Linked DNA regions of Homo sapiens: region 2 is linked to region 1. The links come from fine-mapping of genetic effects on gene expression. A gene starts in region 1. The other region holds a variant in brackets. All regions are shown on one strand. Distances are between the middles of the regions. Region 1 holds the start of SLC75A1 (solute carrier family 75 member 1). Region 2 has its middle 21 kb from the start of HTT.

Region 1 (4,509 bases):
CAGGCTGCCCTGGTACGTGCCTGAAGCATCGCGGAGGTCACATCTAGCCACGGTGACCGTGGTGAGATGTAAGGATTAACCAGACTACGACTGGGGAGGTGAGGAAGGTGACAAGGACCCAGTTCCAGCTTCTAACGGGGTGTGGGATCTTTGAGCAAGGAAGAAGATGCTAGGGAGAATGAGTCTGGCTTTGTTCTTGTTGGGAGGTGTTCAAGCCATGGCTGGACCAGAGCATGAGCCATCCTCAGTGTGAGAGGCAGTTACTGCCGCGGTTGGGCTGCCTGGTAGGCCTGGAGCTCAAAATGAGTCAGTCTCTCTCTGGAAAGCGCAAGACAGAGACAGCGCTGGTGGCAGCTGGGCTGAAGCCAGCAGCTTGGAGATGAGGCTCAGGCCCTGACGGGGGAAATCTTACCCAGCCTCCCCAGATGGCTCAGAGACAGGTCTGGCAGGTGCACGGATCCACAAATCTAGAAGAGTCTGGGGTTGTCACATCCACCAACTAGGCTGGCTGTCTATATACACTTTGTCACTGTGTAGGCCCAGGATTTCACCCATCTACAAATTTTCTCTGCCACACGGCTACTGCCACTTTAATTCACCAAGCCAAGCCTTTGCACTCAGGACCCTGGCCCAACCCTCTTTGGCCAAGCAAAGAGGAAACGAGAACAGGACAGAAAAAAAAGTGGGACCGGACCAGGCACCTGGCTGTCCATTGAGGCCTTGCTATGCGATCCAGGACGGAAGGTGCCGGCAGCAAGCTCATACACTCTAGCTGCGTGTCATGTCATTGAAGAGGGCGCGTGATCCAGCTGGAAGGGTGGATAAAAGTGTAACTGCCCAGTGGGTTCACCTTCCCTGTTACCTAGACAGCCAATTTATCAAGAAAGGGCATTTGCAACAGAGAAAAGGTAATTCACGCAGAGCTAGCTGTGTGGGAGACTGGAGTTTTATTATTACTCGGTCTCCCTGAGCATCTGGGGTTTGGAGTTTTTAAAGATAAGCTGGTGGGTGGGGGGCAGCCAGTGAGTCAGAAGTACCCATTGGTCAGGTCAGAGATGAAATCACAGGGAGTCGAAGCTGTTTTCGCACTGAGTCAGTTCCTGGGTGCCACAACATCAGATGAGCCTGGGTGGTGCCAGGTGACCCACCAAGTGCTGATCTTAGGCTTTACGATGGTGATGTTATCGCCAGGAGCAGTTTGGGGAGGGTCAGAATCCTGTAGCCTCCCGCTGCGTGACTCTTCAACCGTAGTTTCTAATCTTGTGGCTAATCTGTTGGTCCCACAAAAGCAGGCTAATCCCCAGGAAAGGTTTCCTTTGGGAAAGGGCTGTTATCATCTTTGTTTTAAACTAAGTTCCTCCCACAGTTCAACCTGCGTGCAGCAGTAAACAAGGAGGGCATGGAGGTTAGAAGCAAAATGGAGCTGGTTATCTCACTGTCGGCAAATTTTGCAATGGCAGTTTCATAGAGATGCCTGTCCTCTGGGAAAAAAGCTAATAACAGGTTGTCTTTTTGGCTGCAGGTGGAAAACTGCATCTATTAGGAAGAGGTGGGGCTTTGTTCTTACCCACAATTGGAAGTTCTCTATGGAGTAAAGGCGGTATGTGTGCCACCTGATTCCTTTCCCCATGTGTATCTGGTTAGGGTCGGCCACGTGAGATCCGCAAGCATTTTAGAAGGTGGGAGGGGAGGTGGGAGCTGGCTACAGGCCAGGCGTTGGCGTGGTTCCGTGAGTGTGCTCCAGCCAGGCCCAAAGCTTCTCCTGCCCAGAGGGACCGTTTCCTCCAGCGTGGGTCGGGTGCTTCTGCGCCCGGAAAGAGCGCCAGCTCCTCCTTCGGGTGACCCAGGGAGCGGGGCTGCAGGCAAAGGCGCAGGCGGCCAAAAAGGTGCCAACCGGGTCCTGTGGCTTTCAGTTGTCTCTGCCCACCCAATTCACACCATCTTTCCCCCTCAGCCGCCTGTCCTGGGACTTCAGGCTCAGCACCAAACGCAGCAAAAGTAGGTGCACAGAGAGCGGGGTCAGCTCACGCAGCCCGAGCAGAATGGCTGTGCTGCCGCCCCAGGCCCGCGGCCACCGCTGTGTGTGTGGCAGGAGTCAGCCCCCCAGCGTGGGGCCCCGAAGCCCGCGGTCCTTCCACGGGGAGGGCCAGGCCCGCAGGGCGCAGACGATGGGGGACAGGCTGCGCCAGCGCTCGCCTGAGGCCCCGCACACAAACCTCAGGCCCATGGGTCCGCTCCGCGGGGCAGGCGTCGTGGGCCCAAGGAGGCCAGGCCAGGAGTCTCGGCCTCGGGGTTACGCGGCGGCGGGCAGCTCTTCCGCTCCGCTCAGGGTGCTGCTAACCCACAGCCAAGCAGCGACCCGCAGGACCGGCGAGAACCCCGCCACTGACTCCGGCCGGAAGAGAACGTGCAGAGATGTACGTCACTTCCGGGGCGTGGCGTGGCCGGGCGTGGCCGTCCCGCCCCTGGCGGCGTGCCTGGTGCCCTGTTCCGCGTCTGTGCGACCGTCCGTCCCGAGCGCGCAGCCGCGGCAGGTGCGGGGCGGGACCGGGGGCGCCCGGGGTGGGGGGCGTAGGGGGCGCTCGGGTTGGGGGTGGGACAGGGGACGCGCGGGGTGGGGGAGGAGACGGGACCCGGGGTACGCGGGGGTGGGGCGGGTGAGAGGTGCGCAGGGTAGGGGAGTAGGGGGCGCGCGGGGTGTGGGGCTGGACCAGGGGCGCGCGGGGTGGGGGCGGTGGGAGGCGCGCGGCGTGGGGGTTAGAGGGCGCGCAGGGTGGGGGACGGGACCGGGGACGCGCAGGGTGGGGGGCGGGACCGGGGGCGCGCGGGGTGGGGGCGGGACCGGGACGCACGCGGGATGGCGGAGTGGGAGGCGCGCGGGGTTGGGGGTGCTCCTGCGTCCGGTGTGCACCCCATGGCCCCCGCCAGGGAGACCGAGTCCGGGCCAGGGGCCGGAATCGCGGGGCGCGGGCCGGGGCTGGGGTTGGGGTTGGGATCGGGATCGGGATCGGGATCGGGATCCGGGTTCCCCGCGGCTTCAAGTTTTCTCTCGCTGTTACGAGGGCGTGGGAGGCGCGGCCGTGGGGTGGGGTGGGGCCAGGTCCGCGATGTGCTCACCCTGGTCTCTCAGGACCGTTGCCTTTGCGGCTATTTTTTGTGCAATCCCCGAAGCCTGCGTTTCCTGCTGCCTGGGTTCGGGGCGGGGGCATCGCGCAGGCCAGAACGGCCCCTGCGTCCGTAGGCCAGAGCCCCTGCCATCAGCCCCTTTAGGGTGCTCGCCGGCTGTCGGGTGTGGGGGTATGCCAGGCCCCGGAGGACTCGGCTTCCCCGCTAACCCGACCCGCCGCACCCCACCCAGGCCAGGTCAGAGCAGCCCACCATGGGATGGGGAGGGGGTGGAGGCTGCACCCCGCGCCCACCCATCCACCAGCAGCCGCCGGAGCGCCGCGTGGTCACCGTTGTCTTTCTCGGCCTCCTGCTGGACCTCCTGGCCTTCACGCTGCTGCTGCCCCTGCTGCCCGGGCTGTTGGAGAGCCACGGCCGTGCCCACGTGAGTCCTTGCCCTGCGGCCCACAGTGCCCCCTGCCCCCCAGGCCCATCAGACCTCCCCAGCCCTTATCGTGATTCCTCATCCCCTAGGACCCCCTCTATGGCTCCTGGCAGGGCGGGGTGGACTGGTTTGCCACCGCCATCGGGATGCCAGTGGAGAAGAGGTACAACAGTGTCCTGTTCGGAGGTATGGCTGGCTCTGTGCCCTTGGCGGGCTCTCTACGGTCCTATGTTTGGTGGACGTGGTCCAGCCCAGGCCCCTCCCCAATTCTCGGTCCTTGCCTTCCCACTCCCTGGGCTGGCATGTCTGGTGCCCTTGCCCACATGTCCTGGCTTCTGGGCATGATCCCTTGCCTCCGCGTGTCACGTTCAGATCCTTCCTCATCTCTCCATTGGGGCCCCCTCGGCTCAAGGGCCATGGCCTGTGAGTGTAGGGCCCAGCATGACTGGACCCTCAGGACGGGGCTGGACATTGGCCTTGAGGGCCCCAAGACCACAGCTCATGGTGCCAGGCAGCCCCATGATGGTGACATCTGTCTCTCAGGTCTCATTGGCTCGGCATTCTCTGTCCTGCAGTTTCTGTGTGCGCCACTCACTGGGGCCACCTCTGACTGCTTGGGGAGGCGCCCGGTGATGCTGCTGTGCCTGGTATGTTCCTGGGCCTGGGTGCCCATGGGGAAGCCTCCTCCCACCCAGCCAGTAGCCCCATGGGGTTAGGTGGGGAGAGGGAGGTGGCTGTGGGCCCCTCATGGCCACTGGTTGGCCCTCATCGCATCCTGGAGGGGGTTCTCGGGGGACCAGTGGCTCCTGTTCCAGAGCCAGGCTTTCAAGGAGCTGCTCCTGGCCCCTAGGAAGGCACTGAGAACGCAAGTGGCCCTCAGATGCTTCGAAATAGGGCAGGGTTGAGGGGTGTTGTCTGGGTTGCCAAGCCCTACTCTGAGCCACTCCTGGCCTTAAGCG
Region 2 (4,257 bases), 120 kb before region 1:
ACTGCCCAATTCACGAATCATTCATTGCTTAATTAAACTCCTTTAAATTTAATTCGGCTGAAGTTTTTCTTTTAACATGGTGTCAGAAGTGGGATCCAAAGTAAAGCTTCTAATGACCCCTGGGGCACTGAGTGAACAAGTAAGGTACCTGCTGGACACACTTGTGTCCATTGATTTCTCAGAGCAGCTGGGGATCATGGATAAGTCCTCTCTTGGATTTTGGAGATCCACAGTTTGTGTTTCGAGCTCTCTGAGTTTTCTTTGTGCAAATTTCTGATCCAAACTGGGTTTGGAAGTCGCCAAAGAAAATGGATGGGTCCAGGAATAGATTTGATACGGTAATTAACCGGCCTGGATCCAGTTAGAGGCCTCTTACATCTGACTGGGTCTGAAAGAAACTGGTAGAAAATGGTAATATTGCAGGGGGTGTAAAATTTGGCTTTTGAAAATTCGTGGGGATGTTTGTGTTCTACCCCTTTGTTTCATTTTTCTTGCACACTTAGGTAGGAAAAAATCATTGGCTAAATTAATCAAGGGAAGCTGAGCGTAAAGCCAATATTCAGGTAAAAATGGGTTCCTTAATTTCCGGAAAACTGGGTTCCTTCTGGCTTACACGTTAGGCATGGAAAGTGGTGAAGTCTTACAGAAATGGTGAAATCTTACTAAAGATGACTACAGTGGAACATTCTGAATGAACAACAGTGCACTGACATGCATTTAAAAATGAAGGCTCCCAAAAATCAAATCTGCTAACCTTTTAGCTTAGTTACTATCGCAATCCAAAGGAGATAGGCTGCAGCACAAATTGGCTGACTTTGAATAAGTAATGGGGTACATTTTACCTAAGTAAAGCATGGGATTGGGTTAGAGGCCCTCCCCTCAGTAAAGTCCCTCTGGGTTAAAAATGGGTTAAAGATGACAGGGCCCAACCCAGGGCTAGTTTGAGACTTTTTTTTTTTTTAGACGGAGTCTCGCTGTGTTGCCCAGGCTGGAGTGCAGTGGCGCCATCACAGCTCACTGCAAGCTCTGCCTCCTGGGTTCATGCCATTCTACTGCCTCAGCCTCCTGAGTAGCTGGGACTACAGGCGCCCGCCACCACGCCCGGATGGTCTCGATCTCCTGACCTCGTGATCTACCTGCCTCAGCCTCCCAAAGTGATGGGATTACAGGTGTGAGCCACCACACCTGGCCAAGCCCTTACAATTTTTGTGAAAGAGCAGAACAGTGCTTTAAGAAAACCCTGTTGGCCAGGCGTGGTGACTCATGCCTGTAATCCTAGCACTTTGGGAGGTGGAGGCGGGCAGATCACGAGGTCAGGAGTTCAAGACCAGCCTGGCCAATATGGTGAAACCCCGTCTCTACTAAAAATACAAACATTAGCCAGGCGTGCTGGCAAGTGCCTATAATCACAGCTACTCCAGAGGCTGAGGCAGGAGAATCGCTTAAACCCAGGGGGCAGAGGTTGCAGTGAGCCAAGAGTGCACCACTGCACTCCAGCCTGGGTGACAGAGCGAGACTCCATCTCAAAAAAAAAAAATAGAAAGAAAAGAAAACCCTGTTGTGCTTTTACTTCAATGTTCAATTTCTGGAAAAAATGAATAATACTCCTTTAAATTTAGTCAATATGTTCACACACAGAATTTCTTTTACAAGATTAATTTTTACAAACCTACAATTTGCTCAAACTTTTAGCTTTATCTTATCTAACTTAAAAACCCTTTAACCCTCTAAACTAGGCAAAAATTTACATTCCCATGCCTTCTTATAATCTTTTACCAAAAACACATTTCACTCTCCTCACACACCTTGCATGTAAAACTATTTTTTTAGTAGTTTCAATTACATGTTATAATGGTAACTCTTAGCATCTTTTACTTTTGGTGCATGAATTTCACAAATCCTTTAACAACTTACACAGGCCATCTATGGCATGGTTGGACTTTCTCACTTGTCCTAAACACTCCTCTTTTTAAACACCCCTCTTTTTAAACAACCAGTTATTTTACTTTAGGGCAAGAATTTACCATACGAGATCCTTTCTTATATAAAATTTATTTTCTTTGTAATCTTCTTTGCCTAGCTGGGGGCATGGCTAATTCCACATGTCCGCAGGCCTTATCTAGAATCTAATGCTCCAAAATAATTTGAACAATTTAGAAAAGTCAAAGCAGTTTATGACCTTAAAAAATTTAGCAAACCTGGCTGGGTGCAGTGGCTCACACCTGTAATCCCAGCACTTTGGGAGGCGGAGGCGGGGGGATCATGAGGTCAGGAGTTCAAGACCAGCCTGGCCAACATGGTGAAACCTCATCTCTACTAAAAATACAAAAATTAGCTGGGCATGGTGGCATATGCCTATAATCCAAGCTACTCGGGAGGCTGAGGCAGGAGAATTGCTTGAACCCCGAGAGGCAGACGTTGTAGTGAGCCTAGATCACGCCATTGGACTCCAGCCTGGGCAACAAGAGTGAAACTCCATCTCAAAAAAAAAAAAAAAAAAGAA[G/T]TTAGCAAACCTAATATCTAACCTGCCTAATTTAGGCCAAATGTCTTTATTTTCACCAGTAACCTTTAAAACTTTTTATTTCCCAAAGATTACTGAAGTTACATGCACTAAAAGGCATTAGAGTTTTTATTTTTCTTTCAAAATATTTGATTTAAGCACTCATTTTTCTTAAAGCCAATTAATTAGAGCTCTTTTATTTATTTTTATTTTTATTTTTATTTTGAGACAGAGTCTCACTCTGTCATCCAGACTTGGGTGCAGTGGCACAATCTTGGCTCAGGGCAACCTCCACCTCCTGAGTTCAAGTGATTCTCCTGCCTCAGCCTCCTGAGTAGCTGGGATTACCAGCATGCGCCACCACACCTGGCTAATTTTTGTATTTTTAGTGGAGACGGGGTTTCGCCTGGTTGGCCAGGCTGGTCTCGAACTCCTGACCTCAGGCGATCCACCCACCTCAGCCTCCCAAAGTGTTGGGATTATAGGCGTGAGCCAATGTGCCTGGCAATTAGAGCTCTTTTATATAAACATTAAACACACAACACATATATAACTACACAGACAGACAGAAGAAGATCCAATAGTTGTAAGATTTTTCATTTACCACTTTCTAAGTTTCTAAATTGGATTACTGGCTTTAGGATGGAGTCCTTGGAAGAACAGGACCAGGAAAGCATGCAGTTTCTAGGGCCTAATATAATAAGCAGGCACAGCTGGAAGGCAAAACGGATCTCCAAAAATTAAGGGTCTCTTTTTTTTTTTTGAGACGGAGTCTTGCTCTGTCACCAGGCTGGAGTGCAGTGGCACCATCTCAGTTCACTGCAACCTCCGCCTCCTGGGTTAAAGCGATTCTTCTGCCTCAGCCTCCCAAATAGCTGGGACTATAGGCGCATGCCGCCATGCCCGGCTAATTTTTTTTTATTTTTATTTTAGTAGAGGTGGGGTTTCACCATGTTGCCCAGGCTGGTCTCGAACTCCTGAGCTCAGGCAATCCACCCACCTCGGCCTCTCAAAGTGCTAGGATTACAGGCGTGAGCCACCATGCCCAGCCTGAGGTCTCGTTTTTATACCAGATCCTGGATCCCCCCCAAAAAAGAGGGAGTCAGCCCCATAACTGCCATTAGACATCCCTAAAGTATATTTCCTGCCTAGTTATTACACACCAAGTCTCTATGTGAAGTAATTTCTGATACCCCCAAGTAAAAAACAGTAGATAATCCAATGCAAAACAGAACAGAGCCTTAGATTTTGAAAGGAATCTATCTACTTCCAATTTCTGGGGTTTCATGAGTAAAACAGAGTTTTTTCCCAAAACGGGGTCTCTGGCACCTCCTGTTTTCCCAAGGAGTCCCAGGCTGTTAGAGCCAGAATATCTACTTTTAATTAAGCTGACTTTTAACCATTGCACTCTTTAATAAAAGTTCTTTTAAATTGCTTATTACCCAACTTTCATCAGGCCAAACAGCCAATATTCCTGCCTTTAAACTATTGAAAGTAACCTCCCAGGTGCTCTGAGAAAGGCAATTCAAGACAGTTTGTGGAGGGGGAGAAAATCAAAAAATGGCAAAGGTTACCCAAATATCAATTAGAAAGTACTCATTCCCTAAGCCAGGAATCAAACCCAGATCACCACTGAACTATAGCACTGGGCAGTCTCCATTGCCCTTCCCAGAAAGAGTCTAGAGTAGTTAATTTTCAGCTGGCAAAGCCTCGTAACTACTCAAGATAGATTGTAGAGCTAACTATGACATGAACCC

What was found. PIP is the estimated chance that this variant, and not a neighbour inherited with it, causes the effect.
Region 2: its variant is fine-mapped to the expression of SLC75A1 in whole blood (TOPMed, PIP above 0.99).

What each region holds. Positions count from the first base shown.
Region 1 is chr4:2,932,794-2,937,302 of GRCh38, reverse strand. SLC75A1 (solute carrier family 75 member 1) reads left to right here and starts at 2,478. Exons shown (of 13, transcript NM_001146069.2): 1 at 2,478-2,534; 2 at 3,359-3,550; 3 at 3,640-3,736; 4 at 4,094-4,197. The coding sequence starts at 3,380. NOP14-AS1 (NOP14 antisense RNA 1) reads right to left here and starts at 1,757. Exons shown (of 4, transcript NR_015453.2): 1 at 1-1,757. RefSeq lists enhancers at 399-638, 441-1,640, 2,898-3,765, 3,858-3,987, 4,008-4,237 and silencers at 2,029-2,138, 2,299-2,608, 2,838-3,057.
Region 2 is chr4:3,052,001-3,056,257 of GRCh38, reverse strand. It overlaps HTT-AS. Among named protein-coding and RNA genes, the nearest start is that of HTT, 21 kb to the left of the region's middle. The variant G/T (reference allele first, on the strand shown) is at 2,504.